2 separate regions of the Homo sapiens genome follow, and region 2 is linked to region 1. The links come from fine-mapping of genetic effects on gene expression. A gene starts in region 1. The other region holds a variant in brackets. All regions are shown on one strand. Distances are from middle to middle.

Region 1 (4,386 bases):
ATATATTTATATATATATAAATCTGTGTATATCACATATATAAATTTGCTGTTATTTGAATTGCCATTACCTCAGTGCTTAGGGGAAGCCATGCACGTTTGTTTCTTTTCAGTACCCAGAGTTAATTAACATAAGTTATCACAGAAGCTCCCATAAGCATTGAGACAATTTCTCTATACCTGTGACTATTTAAGGTTTTGAAAACAAAACAGAAGCAGGTAAGGAGGAAGTACGCTTTACTATTGAAGATTTATTAGGTACACATTTAGATTTGTGAACTCACATTGCTTAGGATGAAAGGGACTCTTGAGGATGTCTGCTGTTTGTTAGTGAACTGCCTGTAACAATTACAATTAGCACACACATGAGCACAATGAACTGGGTAGTCAGACTCAGCCAAAATGAATAGAAATAGCCTCTTACCAAATTTACTTTGAGTAGCCCTTGGACTCTGAGCACTGCTGCCCAGAGCAATATGACTGTAGGTCCAAGTTTGTCAATGACTATGCAAATGTGCTTTCTTCGCTTTTACTCTATTGTCATCTGTCTATTACAATGTTGCTATGGTGACACCTTTCCAATATCCCTGTGCTTCTTTGGTATCCTCTAAGGGGAAGCTGTAATGAAGTGGCTTGGCAAAAGAATCCTCTTGGAATTTTTTTTTTTTCATATGCTACTGAAAACCAGCATGATTTTCCTCTTATGGGAAATGTATAAAGTATGAGTTGGAAATGATGGAAATTAATCTGTACTGACTTGGGCAAGGAATGTGAATGTTATTCATTCTGTTCCAAACTACCTGAAAATATTCTCTTTCTGTTCCTACTTTCCAGGAGATAACATCTTAAGGGACACTGAAGCTTGTGCGTGTGTGAGTAGAACACGTGCTGGGGGCTCTTGAGCTCATGAGGGAGGGGCTACATGTCGGTGGGGTGATAACTGTATGCTGGAAACAATGATAGGTGGTGACCCTGGAGCACTTACCATGTGACAGGTGTTATGCTAAGCATGTTGTATGCATTCCTTCATTGAATGACAGCTACCTATATTATCCTCATTTTATAAGATGAGGTAACAGAGCTTCAGAAAGGTTAGACTCAGCTGCTATGGGTCTGTCTGACTCTGGTGTTCTTCCTCTTAAAAACTGGGGCACTTTGGAAATGAGATTCCTCGGTGATGAACAGAAATATTGCTTAGCGGCTGTATTTTTGTATCTGGCAGTTTTCCCATATTTGAGTCTTATATTCACAATCGGTATCTTTACATTACACAAAAGTGACACAGAATTAGAGTCATTTAATCCAGGGTTGATATCATTAAGTCATGACTATTTATTAAATGTTTCTTACAATATCTGAGATGATATTGCAAAAGATGTAAGTGATTTTAGAAGTTCTCACTTCGTAGTTAGTTGCAGAAACCTCTTTTGGAGGAGGGATGTTTTCTCTATATATCCTAATTTCTACTTAATATATTTCCACACCTCTTTGAAGTGTGTAGTAAGAATGGTAAAATGCAGTACTTCGTCATTTGGTACAGTTCAATCAATATGCATTAAGATGTGATCATATGGGTAATAGAAAAATGTGAAAGATCCAATTCTTTTTCTCCAGAAGGCAGGAAGCTCATATTTGATTTCTGTTACTATAAACTATAAAAACGTTTCAAATGTAGTTTACCCGTAACCATCACCCTGCAAGGGTGATATTGCTCCCCGCCAATTTACGGAGGAGAATACTGAGGCTTTAAGGTTGTAGATAGACCAAGACCACACAAGTAGAGAGTGGCGGGCTGTGGGTTGAGCTTTAAAATCCAGGTTCATCCATGACTCCCAGTGTGTTCTAGTAAATCCACTAGAATCTGAGTATTTTCCAATGATTTATGCTCCGCTCTGTGTCAGGCAGTTCATGGTATTTTTCAACAATCAGAAAATCCTGGGGAAGGCAAACTGTTTCCCCCTCTCTAGGTGCCTTGGAAGTGGCCGTTGTGGACCCAGAGATCATCCTTTCTGATCTGACACCTTCTTCACTGCCCTGGCCCAGTGTCTTTTCTGCAAGGCTGGAAGCCCCCTTAGACTGGTCATGTCCCATCTCTTTCCGGAGGGAAGATGATCCCAAAGACGACTTTTCTCTCCACGGTGCTGCCATACCGCAGGCGGCCGCCAGGGGTCCCCGCTCGGCGTCCCCGCGAGACAGTCGAGCCCCGGCCGGCTGCGCGGCGCGCTGGGTGCATGAGGGGGCTGCTCCGGAGCGACGGCGGCTGCAGCTGGAGCCAGGCGCTCGCCCGTCCGCCGGTTGGCTCGCCGGGACCTCGCGCACCGGCGGCAGAGTCCCTTGCGTGGATTGGCAAGCGACGCCCCACCTGCCCCGAGCTCACCATTTTCTTTCGCGCTGGCTGCAGCTGACCCGGCGAAGGGAGCCGACCGGGCCCTGGGCTGGAGGTAAAACCCCACGGTGAGTAAGAACCCGCTCCAAGCTAGGGGAGGCGGCGCAGCCCGGTGGCTGCTCGCTCCCGATCTCGCCCGGGCGGGCGGCGAGGTTTGGGGCGCACCTGGGCGCGGGTGCAAGAAGGTGCGGGAGGCGGCGGACCGGTCTTCTGCCCGCCGGCCACGGGCTTCCGGGGCTGGAGTCCTCTTCAGACCCCTGCCGGCGCCTGGGTTTCTGGCCGGCTCCTCGTGTGCACTTCCCGGCAGGAACAAGGGTCGCCCACTTTCCACCCCGGGATCTTGATTTGTCCTTGATTTGAAAAGATATAAATCAATAAGATCGTCCTTCTTTCGGGGTGCAAGACTCCGAGCCCATCCCCAGCCGCGGACGCCTGCAGGGTGCGTGTTGGGCTGTGGGTGGCGGGAAGACAAACTTTTACAAAAGTGCGCCTGGGCTGGGGGACAACGCTTGGGCGTCCTGATCCTGAGGGAGGAGTCTCGGCTTGGGGCAGCGTAGGGGAAGTCCGCACCGTCAGCCAGGTCGCCCCCGGGGCTGACGATGCCTCACGGAGGTGGGGAGCGTGTAAAGGCCGTACAAATCGCGCTTAACTTTGGGGCCAACAACTGTCAAACATCTGGAATCCCAGCCCCTCCCTTTCCCTGAACTGGGGAAGAAGGTGAAAACCCTTCAAGTTTTCTTTGATTGCCCCTTCCCACCTTCAGACCCCTGCTGGGAGGGTAAAGCGCCGACCCCTGGTGCCTGGCAAGTACCAGAGACTCTAAATCTCTCGGGATCCCCCCCCTCGCGCTCTTTCCTGACCCTCTCCCCTAACCCTCCCCACAGAGATCTCTCTACGCAGCCGACTGAGATCGTGGCGAATGGCCTTTTGTTTCTCCGCGTTTCCCCTATTGTTTGCCTTTCCAACATCTGGCGGGGCTTGGGGAGAGAAGGAAGCCCCTCTGGTCCCCCTCCCCGGCCCCCACGCCAGCTCCGGCAGGGGATCCCAGCTGGGAAAGTGGAGGAGCCCGACCCCAGCGAGGCCGCCCCACCCCGCCCTTGTGGTTAGAGGGCGGAGGGAAAGTTGTTCCTTCCCCGCCTCCGCTGCTGCCTGTGGCCCAGGGCGCATTTCTCAGATCTCAGCCCAGGCGCGCCGCAAAGGCTCAAATCCGAGAAGGTGCTGCTTTCGAGACAGTGGAAGCGCGTTCCGCCCCAATCCAGAGCGTCCAGTGGTTGGTTCCAGAGGATTTCAATCTCTAGCCAAAGGCGTTGGGGCTGGGCCGCTGCTAGGGCAGTGGGAGGGGATCGGGGCACCTTTGGTAGGCGGAAAGCTGAGATTCTGGGGTCCACAAGTTTCCAAGGGCGGGAGGGCAGGCTAGTCGCCAAAAAGAGAACGAAGATGCAAATAACGAGGAAGCCTTATGACGTTGCCTGGAAATAGTAGTGTGGTGGTTCACTCCGGAATGAACGTGGAGTTCTGGCTTTGAGTACCGCTCCAAGTTTAAATCCCAAGTCCCCTTTCTTCATTGTAGAAAAAGAGGACTCAGACGACGCAACACAGATACGGCTAGAGCACAGTTCCTGCTTCCACGTCCCAGAGAACAAGTGGCTTAGGATGGTCCCGAGTTCCCCTGTGGGTGCGCTTGTTGGGTTGCAGGCGGCCCTGTTTCCCTGCACAAGTCAGATGCTTACACATTGTGTTCATTCTTAGTGTGGATTATTGATTAAAGAACTGGGGCAAAAGCAAAGTAGCTACTCTGAGAAGTCAGGGTCCCCAGATGGTGCCCAGCGAGTTGTCTTGCCTCTGAGGGGAGGCTGACTGAGACTGTGCACCTGTTAGAACCTATGCTACCCCATAGCCTTGCAGTTGACTTGCTGTTGCCAGCTTTTCCTGTGGGATCCCCAATGAGTCCCTCTTCCAAGGAAGCTCAATTACACTTTTGATTCCTCCTCAACCCAGGGG
Region 2 (4,386 bases), 63 kb after region 1:
CAGTATGTGGTCCTGGGGCATTCGCATCAGAGATGTGCATGCAAGGTGCACACGATGACCAGCCATCCCGTCCTTCTTGCTCCTTCTTTTGGTACCTTGTTCCCTCTGCTTTACCAGGAGTTGAAGTTAAGCCAGAGAGAAGTTTGAGGAAATCGAGGCTGGGCAAGGGAGAGGCCTTATCTGAGTGGATAGAAAGTTTTTCAGTTCCCTGGAGAAAGCTTCTGATAATCATGTTCCCAGACAGTAGCCACATACAGGGGCATGGGACTGTCAGGCCTAAAGCTCACTGTCAATTGTGGAGGATTCAGAAGCACTTCATAGATGATGGGGGACTCTGTTCTGAGCAGTCTGTCTCTGTGTGTCTGCCACTGAGCAGTAACTGGTACAAATGCACCCTATGACTAGGTTTTCTTTCTTAGCTGAGAAATCTCTTGAGAAGGCTATGCATTTCTGGTGTGTAGACAGACTTTCTGCAGATGAGTAAGTTATGTCTTAAACAGAGTTCTTGTTGAACTAATGTCACGAAGAGTCTCTGCTAACAAAAACAGCTAACTTTGCATAGCCAAGCCACTCTGCACAACTTAACAATGTTAGTTCTCCAATAGAGCCCTAATAAACAAGTCACACCACTCTTCCCTATGTGGCTTCAAAGAAGTTGATAGTAACAATACAACAACAAAAACAAAAATCAACTTTGTTTCTTATGGAAGCCAGACTGTTAACCAATGGGCCTGTTAACTCTAAACTCTGGATTTGCCCACCCTTTCCCATGTAGCACTGGTGAGAGCAGACCAATTCCATTCATAAAGGCAGAAAGCTGGGGAAGCAGCAGGTAGCACACTTGAAAGCAGGCACTTCGCAGGAGGAAAAAAGGTCAGGCTGAGCCAGCTGAGCATGTGCGGTTTGCCAACTAAGTGAATCCATCCCTCCACTTGCCCTGGGGCGATGTTAGTAAAAGGACATAGAGAGGATAGTAGGATGCATAGGGAAAATTCTTCCTCATCCAAACCACGAGTGGGGAAATGGTGCTTCCCTCTGAGGTGCCTCAAGATTTTACACTTTTTGAGGGTCATGTGCTTAGGTCTTGTGGGGAAGAAGTCAAAGAAAGAGCACATTATGGTTGGGACTCCTATTGATCATCACACCACCTGAAATCTGATCATAGGAGAAATCCAGATTAATAAATTTAACACTTGACATTTACCTATCTTTACTTATATTATCTCACTTATCCCCAAAACCCACTGTGATATTGGTATTAGCACCCTAACAACAAAGAAAGAAATTAAAGCACAAAGAGAAAGCATTTAGCCCACAAGGGTAACTGGTCAAGGGGCAGAGTCTGGACTCAGACCTGCATCTTTCTGGCTCTAAAGGTAGACCTCTTTTCAGTCTTTGAGGAGGATACATGGTTTGCAATTACATGTCTGACTCAATTTCATTTCAAACTTTTTTTTTAACTTGTTATTGGCATGTTTGAGAGAATAGAGTGGGTAGAATCATTAATTATTTGTCTCAATTTTATCTCAGGGTTACCTGCTTTGTGTACCTGTTTTTCATGTAGAAAAATGAGAAATCATCTAGCTAGATGGTTGTCTGTTCTCTCTTGAGAGTTTCTAGAAATGCAGACTTAATCCTTCTGGCAGGATCTCTGGATTCTGATAACAGGAATGATAACAGGAATGATATGGTTTGGCTGTGTCCCCACCCAAATCTCAACTTGAATTTTATCTCCCAAAATTCCCACATATTGTAGGACGGACCCAAGGGGAGATAATTGAATCATAAGGGCCGGTCTTTCCCGTGCTATTCTTGTGATAGTGAATAAGTCTCACGAGATCTGATGGGTTTATCAGGGGTTTCTGCTTTTGCTTCTTCCTCATTTTCTCTTGCTGC[T/C]GCCGTATAAGAAGTGCCTTCTGCCTCCCACTATGATTCTGAGGCCTCCCCAACCATGTGGAACTCTAAGTCCAATTAAACCCCTTTTTTCTTCCCAGTTTTGGGTATGTTTTTATCAGCAGCATGAAAATGGACAAATATAGTAAATTGGTACCAGTAGAGTGAGGCGTTGCTGAAAAGATACCCGAAAATGTGGAAGTGACTTTGGAACTGGGTAACAGGCAGAGGTTGGAACAATGTGAAGGGTTCAGAAGACAGGAAAATGTGGGAAAGTTTGGAACCTCCTAAAGACTTGTTGAATGGCTTTGACAAAAATGCTGATAGTGATGTGAACAATAAGGTCCAGGCTGAAGTGGTCTCAGATGGAGATGAGGAACTTGTTGGGAACTGGAGCAAAGGTGACTCTTGTTATATTTTAGCAAAGAGACTGGTGGCCCTAGAGATTTGTGGAACTTTGAACTTGAGAGAGATGATTTAGGGTAACTGGCGGAAGAAATTTCTAAGCAGCAAAGCTTTCAGAAGGTAACTTGGGTGCTGTTAAATGCATTCTGTTTTAAAAGAGAAACAGAGCGTAAAAGTTCAGAAAATTTGCAGCCTGACGATGCAGTAGAAAAGAAAAACCCATTTTTTGAGGAGAAATTCAAGTCGGCTGCATAAGGAGCAAGGAGCCTAATGTTAATCCCTAAGACCATGGGGAAAATGTCTCCAGGCCATGTCAGAGATCTTCATGGCTGCCCCACCCATCACAGGCCCAGAGGCCCAGCAGGAAAAAGTGGTTTTGTGGGCCGGTCCCAGGATCCCCGTGCTGTATGCAGCCTAGGAACTTGGTGCCCTGTGTCCCAGCCATTCCAGCTGTGGCCGAAAGGGCCAACGTAGAGCTCAGGGTGTGGCTTCAGAGGGTGGAAGCCCCAGGCCTTGGCAGTTTCCACGTGGTGTTGAGCCTGTGGGTGCACAGAAGTCAAGAATTGAGGTTTGGAAACCTCCCCCTAGATTTCAGAAGATGTGTGGACATGCCTGGATACCCAGGCAAAAGTTTGCTGCAGGGGCGGGACCCTCATGGAGAACCTCCGCTAGGGCAGTGCAGAAGGGAAATGTGGGGTTGGAGCCCCCACACAGAGTCCCTACTGGGGCACTGCTTGGTGGAGCTGTAAGAAGAGGGCCATCGTCTTCCAGACCCCAGAATGGTAGATCCACTGACAGCTTGCACTGTGCACCTGGAAAAGCCACACACACTTAATGCCAGCCCATGAAAGCAGCCAGCAGGGAGGCTGTACCCTGCAAAGCCACAGGGGTGGAGCTTCCCAAAATAATGGGAACCCACTTCTTGCAGCAGCATGACCTGGATGTCAGACCTGGAGTCAAAGGAGATCATTTTGGAGCTTTAAAATTTGACTGCCCTGCTGGATTTCGGACTTGCATGGGCCCTGTAACCCCTTTGTTTTGGCCAATTTCTCCCATTTGGAACAGCTGTATTTACCCAATACCTGTACGCACATTGTGTCTAGGAATTAACTAGCTTGCTGTTGACTTTGCAGGCTTATAGGTGGAAGGGACTTGCCTTGTCTCAGATGAGACTTTGGACTATGGACTTTTGGGTTAATGCTGAAATGAGTTAAGACTTTGGGTGACTGTTGGGAAGGCATGATTGGTTTTGAAATGTGAGGTCGTGAGATTTGGAGGGGCCAGGGGCAGAATGATATGGTTTGGCTGTGTCCCCACCCAAATCTCAACTTGAATTATATCTCCCAGAGTTCTCACATGCTATGGCAGGGACCCAGGGGGAGATAATTGAATCATGGGGGCCAGTCTTTCCCATGCTATTCTCGTGATAGTGAATAAGTCTCACGAGATCTGATGGGTTTATCAGGGGTCTCTTTTTTTGCTTCTTCCTCATTTTTCTCTTGCTGCTGCCATGTAAGAAGTGTCTTCCACCTCCCGCCATGATTCTGAGGCCTCCCCAGCCATGTGGAACTGTAAGTCCAATTAAACCTCTTTTTGTTCCCATTTTCAGGTATGTCTTTATCAGCAGCATGAAAATGAGCTAATATAAAAAATAACTTTTTAAACAGTTTAGAAAGTCATTTCTGTTATCAGAATACAGAGGTTGTAACTGGATTATAACCAGGAATGTAATGTGTTAAATGTAGAGTATTTATATGCTATTCTGAAAAGTGTTTGAGGGATTAGTGGGAGGGCATGGTGGATATAATTTGCCCAAATTCATGAAATAAGCCATATTGCATTAGATTTATTATATGCAAAAAAATACTGGAACTCCCTCAAAATATTAGGGTAAGTGTGTTATAAATGTTGGGGAATATTGTTAACTCATTATCAAATCACTGAGGTTAATATTATTTCTTTTTGCCTGAGAATTAGAAGTCCACCCAAATTAAGCAAGAATGAAGCATTTTCTTTCTTTCTTTCCTCCTATGCAGGGCTTCCATTGCCACCGTGCCCCCCACCCCTACCACCTCCTGCCTATTTCTT

Alleles and levels. Positions count from the first base shown, and alleles are read on the strand shown. Sizes are in standard deviations (SD) of each study's normalised expression.
For the expression in monocytes after Pam3CSK4 of the gene that starts at base 2,194 in region 1, C is the low allele of the variant in region 2 and T is the other (large effect, 1.0 SD a copy in Quach 2016).

What was found.
Region 2: its variant is fine-mapped to the expression of MOB3B in monocytes after Pam3CSK4 (Quach 2016, PIP 0.95). The same link has a PIP of 0.9 or more in monocytes, monocytes after LPS and monocytes after R848.

The regions. Positions count from the first base shown.
Region 1 is chr9:27,527,622-27,532,007 of GRCh38, reverse strand. It overlaps MOB3B (MOB kinase activator 3B), which reads left to right and starts at 2,194. Exons shown (of 4, transcript NM_024761.5): 1 at 2,194-2,453. LOC124902107 (dapper homolog 3-like) reads right to left here and starts at 3,552. Exons shown (of 2, transcript XM_047424279.1): 1 at 3,282-3,552; 2 at 1,308-2,988. The coding sequence starts at 3,552. The coding sequence ends at 2,000. RefSeq lists silencers at 2,147-2,446, 3,417-3,466.
Region 2 is chr9:27,464,197-27,468,582 of GRCh38, reverse strand. All of the region lies in intron 1 of MOB3B (MOB kinase activator 3B), which reads left to right. Among named protein-coding and RNA genes, the nearest start is that of IFNK, 58 kb to the left of the region's middle. RefSeq lists an enhancer at 2,833-3,334. The variant T/C (reference allele first, on the strand shown) is at 1,897.